Linked DNA regions of Homo sapiens. The protein of the gene in region 2 interacts with the protein of the main gene of each other region in a pairwise test. Each region holds a gene or a part of one and is shown on either strand. Other genes may lie near its edges.

Evidence for each region.
Region 1: the proteins of TOPBP1 (region 2) and TOP2B interact in a two-hybrid assay, tested with the Homo sapiens proteins (one study listed by BioGRID).
Region 3: the proteins of TOPBP1 (region 2) and CIP2A interact in a two-hybrid assay, tested with the Homo sapiens proteins (2 studies listed by BioGRID).
Region 4: the proteins of TOPBP1 (region 2) and TEX11 interact in a two-hybrid assay, tested with the Homo sapiens proteins (one large-scale study listed by BioGRID).

What each region holds. Positions count from the first base shown.
Region 1 is NC_000003.12:25,602,401-25,606,027, reverse strand, and holds part of TOP2B (DNA topoisomerase 2-beta), read left to right. Parts: intron 1-1,157; coding exon 1,158-1,268; intron 1,269-3,627. UniProt on the Homo sapiens protein: Key decatenating enzyme that alters DNA topology by binding to two double-stranded DNA molecules, generating a double-stranded break in one of the strands, passing the intact strand through the broken strand, and religating the broken strand.
Region 2 is NC_000003.12:133,637,939-133,641,565, forward strand, and holds part of TOPBP1 (DNA topoisomerase 2-binding protein 1), read right to left. Parts: intron 2,233-3,627; coding exon 2,021-2,232; intron 225-2,020; coding exon 1-224. UniProt on the Homo sapiens protein: Scaffold protein that acts as a key protein-protein adapter in DNA replication and DNA repair. Composed of multiple BRCT domains, which specifically recognize and bind phosphorylated proteins, bringing proteins together into functional combinations.
Region 3 is NC_000003.12:108,568,932-108,572,558, forward strand, and holds part of CIP2A (protein CIP2A), read right to left. Parts: intron 677-3,627; coding exon 458-676; intron 1-457.
Region 4 is NC_000023.11:70,552,205-70,555,831, forward strand, and holds part of TEX11 (testis-expressed protein 11), read right to left. Parts: intron 2,597-3,627; coding exon 2,447-2,596; intron 1,211-2,446; coding exon 1,102-1,210; intron 43-1,101; coding exon 1-42. UniProt on the Homo sapiens protein: Regulator of crossing-over during meiosis. Involved in initiation and/or maintenance of chromosome synapsis and formation of crossovers.

The DNA of each region.
Region 1 (3,627 bases), about 110 Mb from region 2:
CTTTTCATTGGTTATTGTATTATTGCTTTTAGTGGTGGAGAGAAAACAGTAAATAAATCGTTAGGTCATGATTTAACTTCAGAATTTTTAATGAGTAGAAAACTTCCTTTTTATATTTTGCTCAAGATAATAAGGCTTCTTTACTTTTTCTGAGGTGATTCCTAACTAATTGGTCAAAATAGGCATTATGGAAGCATTTAGGTGGACAGGCAAATGCTTATCTGTGTTTATGGGTGTGAGTGTATGTGTAGTGTTTTAATGAGAGAAAAGAAATAATGAAATTTTGAAAGCTTGAAATTTGATTTTCATGGCAATGTGAATGTATATACGACAGTTTTCTAAATCTGTAAGGGCACCAGTGTGATTGCAGATTGGTTGTTACCTGAGAGATTAAAACCGTCATAAGAACAAATTTAATCAGTGTGTATACTTCTTGTTTCGTATTTTTTTTGTGTATGGAATTTTTAAGGTCACTTAATTGATTCACTATCATTTTTTAATACACACATCTATACATTTAGACATATTTGGTACATATTCTATATGTATACGTACTCATTTTTGACAGTGTGTCAAAAGAGTTGTGTAAACATATTTATTTACATCCAAGTAGCTATTTTAAAAGTTTGTGCTATGGTGTTAGGGAAGAACGCATTACACTAATTTGAGTGCAAGAGTAAACTGAAGGTAAGCCTGTCTGCCTTTTAAATTAGTCTTCAAAAATTTATTTAAAAATAGGAATACTTACTATTCTTTTAGATTTAAACATTATTACTGATATTCCTGAAATGGTTAATAGTATTATTTGTGTAGGTACTAAAATAATACAGTGGGACATTTTCATATCTCATTTTAAAATAAATTGGCAGCATGTATTTTTGAATTGGTCAGTTATGTTTTAAATATTTAGCATTTGGGACTTTTAATTTTTACTACTTTATGCACTTCTGTGTTATTTCACCACATAGTTAACATTTTTGGTGTATAACTGATACATTTTATTTTTAGCTGTTTGTATATTGTGGATTATTTGGTCACAAAATAGTAACATAAGATCAATTGTCTAGCTAAAGGGAAGTCATCAGTTAAAAGAGTCAAAGTTTACTGAGAGATCTTTATAACATCTCTTTACTAAAAGAAGGCTTTGCAATTTTTAGATTCAGCTAAATTTGACAGTAATGAAGAAGATTCTGCTTCTGTTTTTTCACCATCATTTGGTCTGAAACAGACAGATAAAGTTCCAAGTAAAACGGTAGCTGCTAAAAAGGGTATGTACTTATATTTGATTGAGTTAAGCATTGGATAGAGATAGTTAATGTAAAAGGAAATGTAATTTAATTTGAAACTATTTGCATTTTTTTATCATAAAACAATTAAGAAGTATAAGTGCTTATAAGGAGAACCTCTCGTTTTCTAGCCATCTGAGGGCGTTAATAAAATTTCTGTAAGACTTAATTTTAAAGCTGTTGTAATTATAAAATAATCCCGTGCATTACTATCTAAAGATAGCTTTCTACAAAAGCTCCCTTGTGGTTAGGTTGTAATGGAGATTAAAATTTTGTCTTGCTAGTAGCTTGCTTCTGTTATCTATGTTGATCATGACTCAACTCCTTATGTGGAGGGATTGGTCAGCTCAGTTGAGGTCCTCTTTTTCTATGTGAGTCATGCAGCTTCTCTCTTTTTCACAGCCTTAGATTGGCCACAAAACACTTTGAGTTGATTAATGAATCTCTTACTAGTACCAAGATATATGTACCGTGGTCTTTTTGAAAGAGGTCAGTATTTGTGCTTTGTGTTTGAAGGATGACACTTAAAAAAAACCCCACAAATCTAATTGAGATGTGTGCTATTTAAGACAGCAAGTAAATAATATGGATTGTTCCCTCAAGGATTTTAAAAATTCACAACAGACAACATCATTACAGACACATGTATTGAATGTAGCAGAACAACAATTTTGAAAAGTCCTGCTTATTCTGAATGCAGTAGAACCATATTGAGAAACTGGTTATTTACAAGAGTCTCTGTAGCCAACACACTGGGTGACCTACCCATGTCCCTTACCACTTAGTGCATATTGGGCAATATCTGCCTTTCGTTGCCTGAGGACTTCCTCTTTGCCACTGTGCTGGAATATTAACACCCCCCTGCTCCCAGCTGCCTTTAACTAGCAGATTGAGGAAAGTTGGTCTATAAATATCTCAGTGTCCTTGCCTCTCATGTGAGCCAACTGTGGGATGTGTGTTTCACACTGGGACTCAAAAATTTCTTATGGAATTAAGCTCCTAGAGTGATGATTGGCTTGGTAACTTACCTATTACTGGCTGCCTTCTCTTCATTGTCTCATTTTTGTCTCCCCCTCCTTTATCTCTCAAATAAATACTTATACTTGAATCCATACTCTAGGATTAGGCAGATTGGCCCAAATCTGGGGAACCCACATTGAGATGGACCCTATAATTTCTCTTTTTTAAAAAAACAATCAGGCTGGGCGCAGTGGCTCACACCTGTAATCCCAGAACTCTGGGAGGTCGAGGCAGGCAGATTGCTTGAGGTCAAGAGTTTAAGACCAGCCTGGCCAACATGGCAAAACCCCATCTCTACTAAAAATACAAAAATTAGCCTGGTGTGGTGGCGTATGCATGCCTGTAGTCCCAGCTACTCAGGAAGCTGAGGCACAAGAATCGCTTGAACTTGGGAGGCAGAGGTTGCAGTGAGCTGAGATGGCACCACTGCACTCCAGCCTGGACGGTAGAGTGAGACTCCATCTCAAATAACAACAACAGAACAATCAAAAAGCACCTTTAAAAAATAATCTTCATATGAGCATCTTATAAACACCCTGAAAACTTGGGAGCCGTATTACTTCCTGAAACATACCCCGTTTCCTTCATCAAACTGTTCACCCATATTTAACCTAATGAGTTTAGCATGACCAAAAAGCTAGATTATCATGGTACCTATCCTACTTGCTTCCTTCTTCAGTAGCTGAACTGGCCTTGTCTAAGTTGAATAGGTAGACTGCCTGTGTGGTGTGATTTCAGGGACCCCAGCAAGTCCTCAGCTTTCCTTTAGCCTCCCTTACGAAATATAATTCCAATAAAATATCATTTCAAGAAGAGGATGCATCATATCCCTCTGTGGGATTGTCTATGTTAACTCCAAATTGCGTATGTTACACAAGTTAAATTCTGTAGTTCCAATAGTTTACAGCAGAAAGGCAGCTATAGTACTCAGATATCTGACCTGTTTGCCTGGTAGAATTGAAAGTGCCATGTAACTCCAAGCCAAGGAAAAAAAGTGGTTCCTAGAACACCTGGCTAAGTTTATACTCCCTGCTAGGAGCTGCCCTGTGGTTCTTGTGGTAGATATAGTCATGAAGACTCAGGTGGGAAAAGCCACACAATCTGGGTGCCACTTTCCTAGGGCTCCTCCTGCTCTTGGCTAACGAGGGGCCTTATTTGTAGTGTCTCAAATTGCGACTGGAATACATTTTCCATAGAATCAGTGTAGGTTTTTTTTTTTTTTTAAACAAAGTCTACAGTTAATATATTTTCTTCCAAATTAGGTTTTCTTAATTACAAAAAGTGATTTATCAGTTTTTTTTTTTTCTTTTTCTTTTTTTTT
Region 2 (3,627 bases):
GTGTAACGAGGGCTCCTTCTGAAGTGGTTGTCCTACTGCTGGGGAGGCTGCGACCTGTCTGGCATGTTGTGAGACCACAGCACGGAAAGCTTTACTCTGAAAGCGGTTCATATCTAAAGGTGTAACGACGGTTTTTCTGTGAGTTTGCAGGCGTGTGCCAGGATGCTCTGCAGTATCTGAATTTAGATTGATTCCATTTGTTATTTCTGTTTCCAAACTTCGTTCTAGAGATTTAAAATGAAAAGAAACAAATATGAGCCACTAATGCCCACTTTTTCCCGGTACACAAGAAGTAATATTTTATACTGTTTTCTTTCCTTTCTTTCTTGCATAACTCCTGGGCTCAAGAGATCCATCTACCTCGGCATCCTAATCTGTTAGTTTTCATGTCAATTCTCAGGTACACTTTAAATCACAAAATTATATACCTACTTTCCAAGAAACAAACCAGATTATGCATTAAATATATGTTGAGTTAGACAAGCACATTAACTGAAAAAATAATAATAGATTTCCTGTTTCATCTTGCTATGTCTCAATAAGCCTATTTGCCAAAAATTGTTATCAGTGAATGTCTTTCTAGTCAATGACAGAGTAAAAAGAAAAATCTCAATTACAGGTACTCAGAGTTAACTACAGTCTAGTTTTGGAAAGTCCTTAATCAAATTTTAATATGACCTGAACATCACTTAGCCTCAGTCATAAAATTACCAGTCTGTCTGGCAAAATAAGTAATGACTCTGAGAGGTATTCCCAAGCTGCTGATATGTCCCTGAAGTTTGCCCATGGATGCTATTATCTTACAAGAGAGGGTACTGTATTCTTCCACCTATGCCTTCCACCTTTTTTCAACATTTAACAAAAAACCTTATTAGATAGCTACTCCATGCCAGGCCTAGTGTTAGACATGGGAAATACAGAATTCACAAGACATGCATGTTCACTGCCTTTCTGGAACTTTAAATTTAGCAGGAAGACACAAAATAAACAACCATTATAACACTGAGGTAAGAGATAAAAGGGATGATACAGAGTGTCATGGTGAAACAAAAAACATTATACCAAGACAAAGGCCATCCTTGGTGAGTCAAGAATGCTTCCCAAGACAGTGTGGCGATTCCTCAAAGATCTAGAACTAGAAATACCATTTGACCCAGCGATCCCATTACTGGGTATATACCCAAAGGATTACAAATCATGCTACTATAAAGACACATGTACACATATGTTTATTGCAGCACTATTCACAATAGCAAAGACTTGGAACCAACCCAAATGTCTATCAATGATAGACTGGATTAAGAAAATGTGGCACATATACACCATGGAATACTATGCAGCCAGAAAAAAGGATGAATTCATGTCCTTTGTCGGGACATGGATGAAGCTGGAAACCATCATTCTGAGGAAACTATCACAAGGACAGAAAACCAAACACCGCATGTTCTCACTCATAGATGGGAATTGAACAGACACAGGGCAGGGAACATCACACACCGGGGCCTGTCGTAGGATGGGGGGATGGGGGAGGGATAGTATTAGGAGAAATACCTAATGTAAATGACGAATTAATGGGTGCAGCAAACCAACATGACACATGTATACATATGTAACAAACCCGCATATTGTGCACATGTACCCCAGAACTTAAAGTGTAATAATAATTAAAAAGAAAAAATGAAAGGCTTCCCAGGGAAAGTGGTATCTTAGCTGAGAACTGAAAGATAAGCAGGAAGAGCAGGCAACTGTGAGGTGGTCTACAGGAAACATGCAGAAGCCCAAAGATAAGAGGAGAGATAGCATGTTAATTATATAGTGTGTTACTATGAGCCATAGAAAGAATCAACAGTAAATAGGAGCCAAGCTTACATCTGTAGACTTCGAACACTGAGACCCTCACTGCACCCAATGTGAAAAGCAAAAATCAATGACCCTTCCTAAACACAAGCATTGGCACATTTATATCCCAGAAACCATCTAGTTGTAAATATATATAAAAGAACAGAATAAAAGTATTAACCTTCTTTAGTTGAATTTTCAATCAGAAAATGGCTTTCGTCTGCTCTCTTTCCCGTTCTAGCAGTCTCCAACAGCCAAGCTATAGTAACGGCAGGTAAATTCCACTTCTTTGCAGCTTCATATTTAGAGCCACCACGTTCTTTCAGTATAAGATGAGTACTGGCAAACATGCCTTTCTTTGCATTGGATTTGCGAACAAAGTATTCTTGAACACTGAAATTTATGTTTAAAGAAGTGGAAATGGTCACATATACAATTAACCCGCAAAACTAACAAAATTTCCAACACAACAGTGTGGTTAGAGATCATGTAAGTATAAAAAAAAATACTGATTAAAAGTTGGTTTACTCTATCTGAAATTAAGCTAATCCCCTTACAAATGCTTACTCTAGGGTAAAAATGTATTGCTGTAACAAACTTTTTATAAAAACATAATTAGACATGCAAAGAACAGACAGCAAAAATCCTTTTGAGACAGGGTCTTGCTATGTTGTCCAGACTGGAGTGCAGTGGCACAATCACAGCTCACTGCAACCTCCGCCTCCCAGGCTCAAGCCATCCTCCCACCTCAGCCTCCCCAGTACCTAAGACTACAGGTGTACACCACCACACCTGGCTAATTTTTGTATTTTTTGTAGAGATGGGGTTTCACAATGTTGCCTAGCCTGGTCTCGAACTCCTGAGCTCAAGTGATCCTCCTGCCTCAGCCTCCTAAAGTTGGGATTACAGGCGTGAACCACCTCACACAGCCAAAATTACCTCCTTAATTAGTTATCACCCCCACACCTTGTCCTTTCCTCCCAAAAGAAGGCACAGAAAAAATGACAGGAGCAAAGTGTATAAATAACATTATTATTATTTTTTAACCTACTACAACTTTCCAAAGCATTTCTACATATTATCTCATTTGATCCTCTCAATATTTAAGTATAGACATGGGAAAAAATACAGAGAAATTAAGTGCCTCAAGATCATAGGATATTAAACACAGAGAATACGGGGCAGAAAAAGAAGTCTACGACTTGAGATTGAACAGAATTCCGTGATTTCTTTTATGACTTCTGGGTTTTATGTTCTAGTTCCCAACTTTTCAGATTTTTAAATTTCCCATGTTTCCTAGCACTTTTTTTTTCTATGTTTTGTGTTTATCTTAGTACTTTTATAATTTCATTTTTTACATTTAACCCACCAATCCATTCAGTACTTATTTAGATATGAGATACTGCTCCAACTTTAATGAATCCTATTTATTGAATAAGCCATGTCTTCCTTATATATATTTGAAATGTCACTTGTATCGTAAATTCCTTTTTACATTTGGGTCTCCTGCTACATTTGCTGTCCATTAATTAAACTTTCTGCTACACGTAACCACACTGTTATTTAGTGAAGTTTCACAAAATATATATTTGTTTGTTTGTTTTCTGAGACAGGGTCTTGCTCTGTCCTCCAGGCTAGAGTACAGTGGCGCCACTGTGACTCACTGCAGCCTTGACCTCCCAGGCTCAAACAATCCTCCCACCTCAGCCTCCCAAATAACTGAGACTACAGATTTATGCTACATTGCCTGGCTCATTTTTAAAATTTTTTGTAAAGACAGGGTCTCAG
Region 3 (3,627 bases), about 25 Mb from region 2:
AGATCTACCAGAATGTGGAGTTTTGTCTGTATCTTAAGTGCCTAGCACATTATCTGGCATGCTCTACTCCATTTCACTGACTGAATCCAATATGCCTCTATTGTCCATTCAATGGCCTACTAAACTTGGTAGATGGCATCTATTGCAATGGAGAGACAATGTAACTATCCCCAGTAGTCAGGCAACAAATTATATAAATCTTTTTAATATCTTTACTTATTACACTGAAATGAGCACTATATATATATATACATACACACTACTCAGTGAAAAAAAAGGAAAACACTAATATATATGACTGGCAGAAAAAAACCTAGCGAGTCTAGTATGACTGTTAGTAATTGAGATGTTTTCCTCAAGTGTATGAACTGTAAGTTTACAAAGAATGTTTTTGAAGACAAATTGTTAACTGAGAGTCACAAAAGTAGAAAAGTCAATCTGTCAGTCATCCTATTACCTCAAATATTTCCTTGAACAACTCCAATGCTAAAACAGAACAGTTTTCTGATCCGTCCAAAGGTTGGCTTAACCAGCGCAGTAGAGCCACAGTAGGTTCTAAACATTTAGTATGGCTTCCCAGAGTGGCGCTGCCAGGTGGAGACTGTTCAAACATCATCTGAGTGAGCATATGGCGCAGCTGAGTCACTGAACAGAAGGCAAGAAGTAATTCTAAAACCTGTGCAATATAAAGTGTTCATTAAACATCAATTTCACAGAACTTTAATATACAAAGCAAGTGTATGATGAAGCTGAAAATGCTACATATTTTAAAGAAAATATTCTAAAACAAAACTTAAGTTTTTTCTTTCAATATTATTTTTCAAATGTGTGAATAGGTTCTAGAAGATTATAAAATAAACTTATTAATGGTGGTTACTCCTGATAAGCAGGACTGTGAGAACCTCAGAGGGAAGGTCAACTTCAGCCAACGTTAAACTCCTCCCACTCCTTCCATAGTACTTAAATTATTTTTAAACAGAAACCTGTTTTGTTTATAAATGACCAAAAAAACCCTAAAAAATAAAATTAGAATTAGTAATACTTGTTATAATCCTAAAATTCAATAACCGCTATAAAGGATACTGTAGCATAGAATATAAAACCTTCAGGATGGTTATTTCCACACTGTTTGCATACGGTTGGCATTATGACCCTTAGCTCTCCTACTGTACCCCATTTTTCCTCTACTTTATAAACTGGGCCTTATACCATAACATCCCCCATCAACCAGTTTATTAGATGTTAAGATAAATTCCACCTCATTTCACATACTACCAACTTATCACTAAAAAAAAAAAAATTTCTTAAGATCTCCTTGTCTCTCTATTTCCAACTTTTTAAAAGTCTGTTTCTTACAAATGATATATAATTGGGATTTGTGTTTTAATCAACTTGATAGTATCTGAATTTAAAAGAATCCAGTCCATTAGCATTTACTATAACAAATGATAATCTTTAATAAACTGTAGTACAGTCATGTGTCACTTAGTGATGCATATGTTGCTTAATGCATCATTAATTCCGTTGTGTGAACATCGTAAGAGTGTACTTACACAAACCTAGATGGTAGAGCCTACTACGTCCCTTTATTGCCCGTGGGCTACAAAACTGTACAGAATATTACTGTACTAAATACTGTAGGCAACTATAACACAATTGTAAGTACTTGTGTATCTAAACATAGAAAAATACAGTATAAAAGATCAAAAACGGTACACCTGTATAGGACACTTACCATAAACAAAACATGCAGGACTGGAAGTTGCTCTGGGTGAGTTAATGACTGAGTAGTGAGTGAATGTAAAGGCCTAGGACATTACTGTATATTGCTGTATATTTCATAAAGACTGTATGCTTAAGCTACACTATTTTTTAAAATTTCTCTAATAAATTAACCTTAGCTTAGCAGAACTTTTTAACTTTATAAACCTATCCATTTTTAAAGTTTTTGACTCTTTTGTAGTAAGAGAAACACACTGTACAGCTATACAAAAATACTTTATTTACATCTGTAGTCTATCAGTTTTTTCTATTTTTAAAATGTAGGCTTTTTCTTTTTAAACTTTTTTTGTTAAAAACAAAGACACAAACACAGACATTAGCCCAGGTCTACACAGGGCCAGGGTAATCAACACCACTTCCACCTCCACATGTTGTCCCACTGGAAGGTCTTCAGGGGCAGTAACACACAGGGAGCTGTCATCTCTAATAACAACAATACCTTCTTCTGGAATACCTCCTGAAAGACCTGCCTGGCTGTTTTACAGTTAACTTTTTTATAAGTAGAAGTACACTCTAAAATAACAAAGAATAAGTGGTAACACGTTTATCAAAATACTATGTACTGTATACAATCTTAATATGTGTTATAGTTTTATACAGCTGGCAGCTCAGTAGGTTTGTTTACACCAGCATCACCACAAACACATGTGATGCATTGCACCACCATGTTAGAATGGCCATAATGTCATAGGCAATAAGAAGTCTGTGTCTGTCATTGACTAAAATGTCATTATGTAATGCATGACTATATTTATTTTTGAATAGGTAATACATTCACATGGTTCAAAAGACAAACCCTGTAGGCAAGCAATGTTACCAATTGTTTGTGTATCTTACCATATGTCCGTTATAAACATAGAAGCAGATAGCTTTCCATGTACATTAGTTTTCTTTTAATGTACACATATAAAAGTAAAAAAACTAATTACTAGTGCAGAGCTAGATGACTTTCCCAAAATGAACATATTCCACTGTTAATGGCATTTGGGTTATCATTGTTAGCTATTAGGAGCAGTACTACATTTTGTACACATGTAAACAATTCTTTGGGATAAATACCTATAAGTGAGATTTCTGGGTCGTAGTTTATACATATGCCCAGTATTAATAGATACCAGTTTTCATAATTGGTTGTTCTGTAAGTACTAAATGAGAGTTAAAGTATGTTTGCTATTTTCCTTATTTTTCATTTTAATCAACTGGTGGGTGTCAGATGGTATGATACTACCATTTAAATCTGCATTTCCCTTAAGATTGATAAAGTGGTAAATCACTTCATGTTTATTGACCAATTCAACTTTTTTGCTCAAGTATCTGTTCGGCTCTGTGTTTTTTCGGATATATACATACAATGTAGAAAAATAATATATTTTGGATAAGAGTCCTTTGTTAGATATATGCATTGTAAATATCTATTCCCATTCTTTGACTTTTCATTCTTTTATTAGTGGTCTTTTCATAAATAGAAACTTAATTTTAATGTAGCCCAACTTATCGACTTTCTTACTGTATAGTTAGTGCTTTTGTTTCCTGTTTAAGAAAATCATTGTCTACCCCAAGGCCATGAAGATACTCTTTAGGTGTTTTTTCTAAAACGTTCCTTATTTTTACTCTTCACATTTAAATCTACAACCTGTCTTATACTGATTTTTGCATTTGGTATGAGGAAGGGGGTCAAATTTCAGTTTTTCCCCATATGTATATTCAATTGACCCAGCGTCATTTATTGAAATGACCATACTTTTAAGACTCTACTGTTGTCAATCTGAAGACCATATGCTGTGGGTTTGTTTCTGCTCCATTATGTTCCACTGGGCTGTCTATCATTATGACAAAATACTGCAC
Region 4 (3,627 bases), on a different chromosome or scaffold from region 2:
CCATCTGGCACTGAGAGGTTAACCAAGTTGTGCATACATTTGCTGAAAATCAAAAAGAGAAAACTCATCCCATAAGGAAAGAAATCATTGGCTTCATGGCTAAGATAAGTAAAACCTGGATCTCATCCCAGACTAACAGCTTCAAAACACTTCTGTTCTTCCCTCGGTTTTATCTGGCCTCCAACCTCAGAAGACAGATTTTTGAAGCTGTAAAACAGGTTGACCAATCCTTTCTTTTTTCATGCCTATGGTTGTCTTTCATTCTTTTTTTAGTTTCCTGCACGAAGGAGTTGTGGCTGTCTATTATATTTTATGAGCTGGTTCAATTTACAGGCATTTTAAAGCATCTCGGTACTTCCTCAAATGGGCAAGGGAACTGGGGTTTAAAGTGGAATGATTCCACAAGAACTGTCTTTCGTGCCTTAACACAGGAAGACTGTAATGATGTTTTCCAGACAAAAAAAGTCACACAACATCTATTTTTCCCCATGTCTGGACACAGAAAACAAAAAAGTCTCCAATAGATAATATTTTATACAGCACTTATCGGTGCTTAAAGTGCTTAGAAAAATAATGAGGCAAACATAGCAAGATGTTAACATTTGTTAAATCTGGGTGCTGCGTGCCTGTAATCCCAGCTACTCATGAAGCTGAGGTGGAGAATCATTTGAGCCCAGGAGTTTGAATCCAGCCTGGGCAACATCACGAGACCCCATCTCTAAAAATAAAACAAATAAATCTGGGTGGTGGATACGTTGGTGTTTGTTATATTAACCCCTGTGCTTTTCTGTACATTTGGAATATTATTTAGTGATGAAACAAAGAAAGAAAGGTACTTAGCAGTTTTATTATATACACAGATTCACACAAAGAAGCAACTTTTCCCCTTTTTTTTCTCCTTTGGGAAAACCAAGCTCCTTGACTTTGCTAAATAATTATTGGTCTGTAATACAACTCTCAGTATGGAGCTGTTCACAAGAATGCCCCCAGATCATCCCCATATCATCTTTAAAGTTGAGTCAATTAAGAACGATTGGTTACTTTTGAGGCATTGACTATAGTTCTTTTGGCTAGCAAAAAGGCTGGATTGTATTTACTAACCTGTATTGTGATATATCAATTGGTTCTTCCTTTTTGTAGAGCAATAAAGCCTTTTTCAAGGCCTTGAGAGCAATCAAAGGATAGTGTGCAGGCTTTTCCATTGCTATTACTAGAGTAAGAAAAGGAAAAAGGTTGTGAACATGATAATGTCACCCATCACAGTTTTCATCCCAGGCTACCACTTGCTTTCTCTAATGAAACTGGGCTGAAACAGATGAACAAAAATAAACAACAATGAATTTTATAAATGATAAATCTACAGTCGCTTTTGGAAATAGCTTCTACTTTCTGGGCAGAGTAGCATGGTGGGATTACCAGGTAACATCCTTTTTTCAGCAAACATCAACAGAAAACCTACTGTTTGTATGACCTTGCACACAGTCATACAGGTGAAGCAATAATCTTATGAATGACAGTCAAGGAAGGGCACACTAAGAAGGAAACAGAAAGCAGATCAGTAAAAGGGCACTAATTGAAACAGGTTTGTACTAAAATGTCCTATTTTTATCTGATACTAAAAATAGGAAACACTTGACAAGGGAGTATCAGAGGTAACTAACCCTAAGACTTCCAGATGCATTTAACAGATTTTTAGAATTGGAGTTCCATTATACAAGGAGCAGTGGTTGCTGTCACATGTCCATAAAGTATATATCATCTGCTCCATGGCTCTAGGAATTCTGTCTTGGCAAGACCAAGGAAAGGCAAATGTGACTCTTGTGCACTTGGAGCTACCTAATATTTTTATTAACCACACACATGCTCCTGAAGAGGGTGAGAGATAAAAAGGGAAGATAATTAGGCTGTTTCCTGCAGTGTACTCCCAAAAAGGCTCTATGCCCCCAAACCCACGTAAAGTTTGGCCTGAAATTTGAGAGTGGCAATTGTGTTAAAAAATATTACCAGTATTTCTCTGTACATTTCAACAAACAGCTAAGATTGCATCACTTTTGATTGTTGAAGCACTCAGTTATTTCTAGCTAGCCCAGAAAAACTTTCTAAAGTTTGAGCTCCCCCTGTTGTGTAGTTACATAATTAAATTCCACACAGAAAAAATTTGAGCACCTATTAGGAGCAATGAACTTCGCTAGGGTTTGTAAGTACAAATTAAGTAATTATTGTTTATGACCCTAAAGAGATTATAATCTCATAGAGTGAAGAAGATAAATGCACAAATGATCATAATACAAAATAGTCTAAGAATGGCATTAGAGAAGGAGAAACAAAGTGCTATGAGAAAAAATTATTTCCTACCTGGAGGTAAGAAAGAAGAGTAAAGAGAAGAAAAAAAGTCATACGATCTAAATGGGCACCAGCCTTACAAAAGCATAAATATAGCTCTTACTTGCAATTGTTTCAAAAGTTTTAGTTTCTAAATGAGGCAACTCCCACACTGATTCCAGGAAGCTTTCCAGTAATGGATCATTCAATTTGGCTCTAACTTCAAACTCGTACAGCAGAAGCAATTTCTCACATGAATCATTTGAGAAGGTCCCTAAGAAAGAGGCAAAAATGCAACATTCTTTGTGATTATATTATATTATTCTCTTTGGTTGTAATTTCACTAACTGGAGAGGTTTTCCTTCTAAGAAATATTAATTTTACTTACAATTTGAAGGTCATCTTCACTGCTGTAGACAGATTCTAAATTTTATTTTTGTTTTTTATTTGATTCTAACATTTTAAAATCTCTAAGCTAACCGCTACTTCCAACATTCTGTAGCGCATTCACTAGAACTACCTATATTTTCTCAAACAATTGCCACGATGCTTCTAAACAGCCTGAGAAAACCCTGCTGCTATTATTGATTCTAAATCAAATCCAGTGTTTACTTGCTTCTTGTGAACTTTCAACTGGGCTGGTGCTCACTCTAATGGCCGAGTTAACCAGAAGATACAGTGCTGTATAAACCAACAGTGACTTTATTTTAAGCAGAATAGAGGAGAGTTTCCAAACTGTTTCATTAGTCGACAGAATTTCTTGGGCATCAGCATAGAAAGAATTTCATGTCAGGTGTCATACACTAAACTATGTGAGACACTTTTCATTCATCCTTCTTGGTAGATTGAACATTGAAAAATGTTTTGAGGTATGACATATATACAACAAACTGAAAGAAGTGCTCTAACCTTAAACAGCTTGATGAGTTTTTACATGTGTTTAAACCCGTGTAATAACTACCTAGATTGTGATAACAAACACTTCCAACAATACAGAAGGTTCCTTTGTGCTCCTTTCCAGTCAATACCATCCAACCAAGGTAGCAACTATCTTTGCTTTTCTGCGTTTATGTTTTGCATCTATTTTCATGAGGAATCTTGGTCTGCAGTTTCTTATATTGTCTTTGTCTACTACTGGTATCAGGATAATAGTCTCATAAGATGAACTGGGAATTGGGCCCTCCTTTCAGGATGAGTTTGTATAGAGTTGGTATTACATCTTCTTTAAATGTTAGGTAGAATTCTTCAATGCAGTTTTCTTTGTTGGAAGATTTTAAACTATGAATTTAATTAATAGGCATAGGA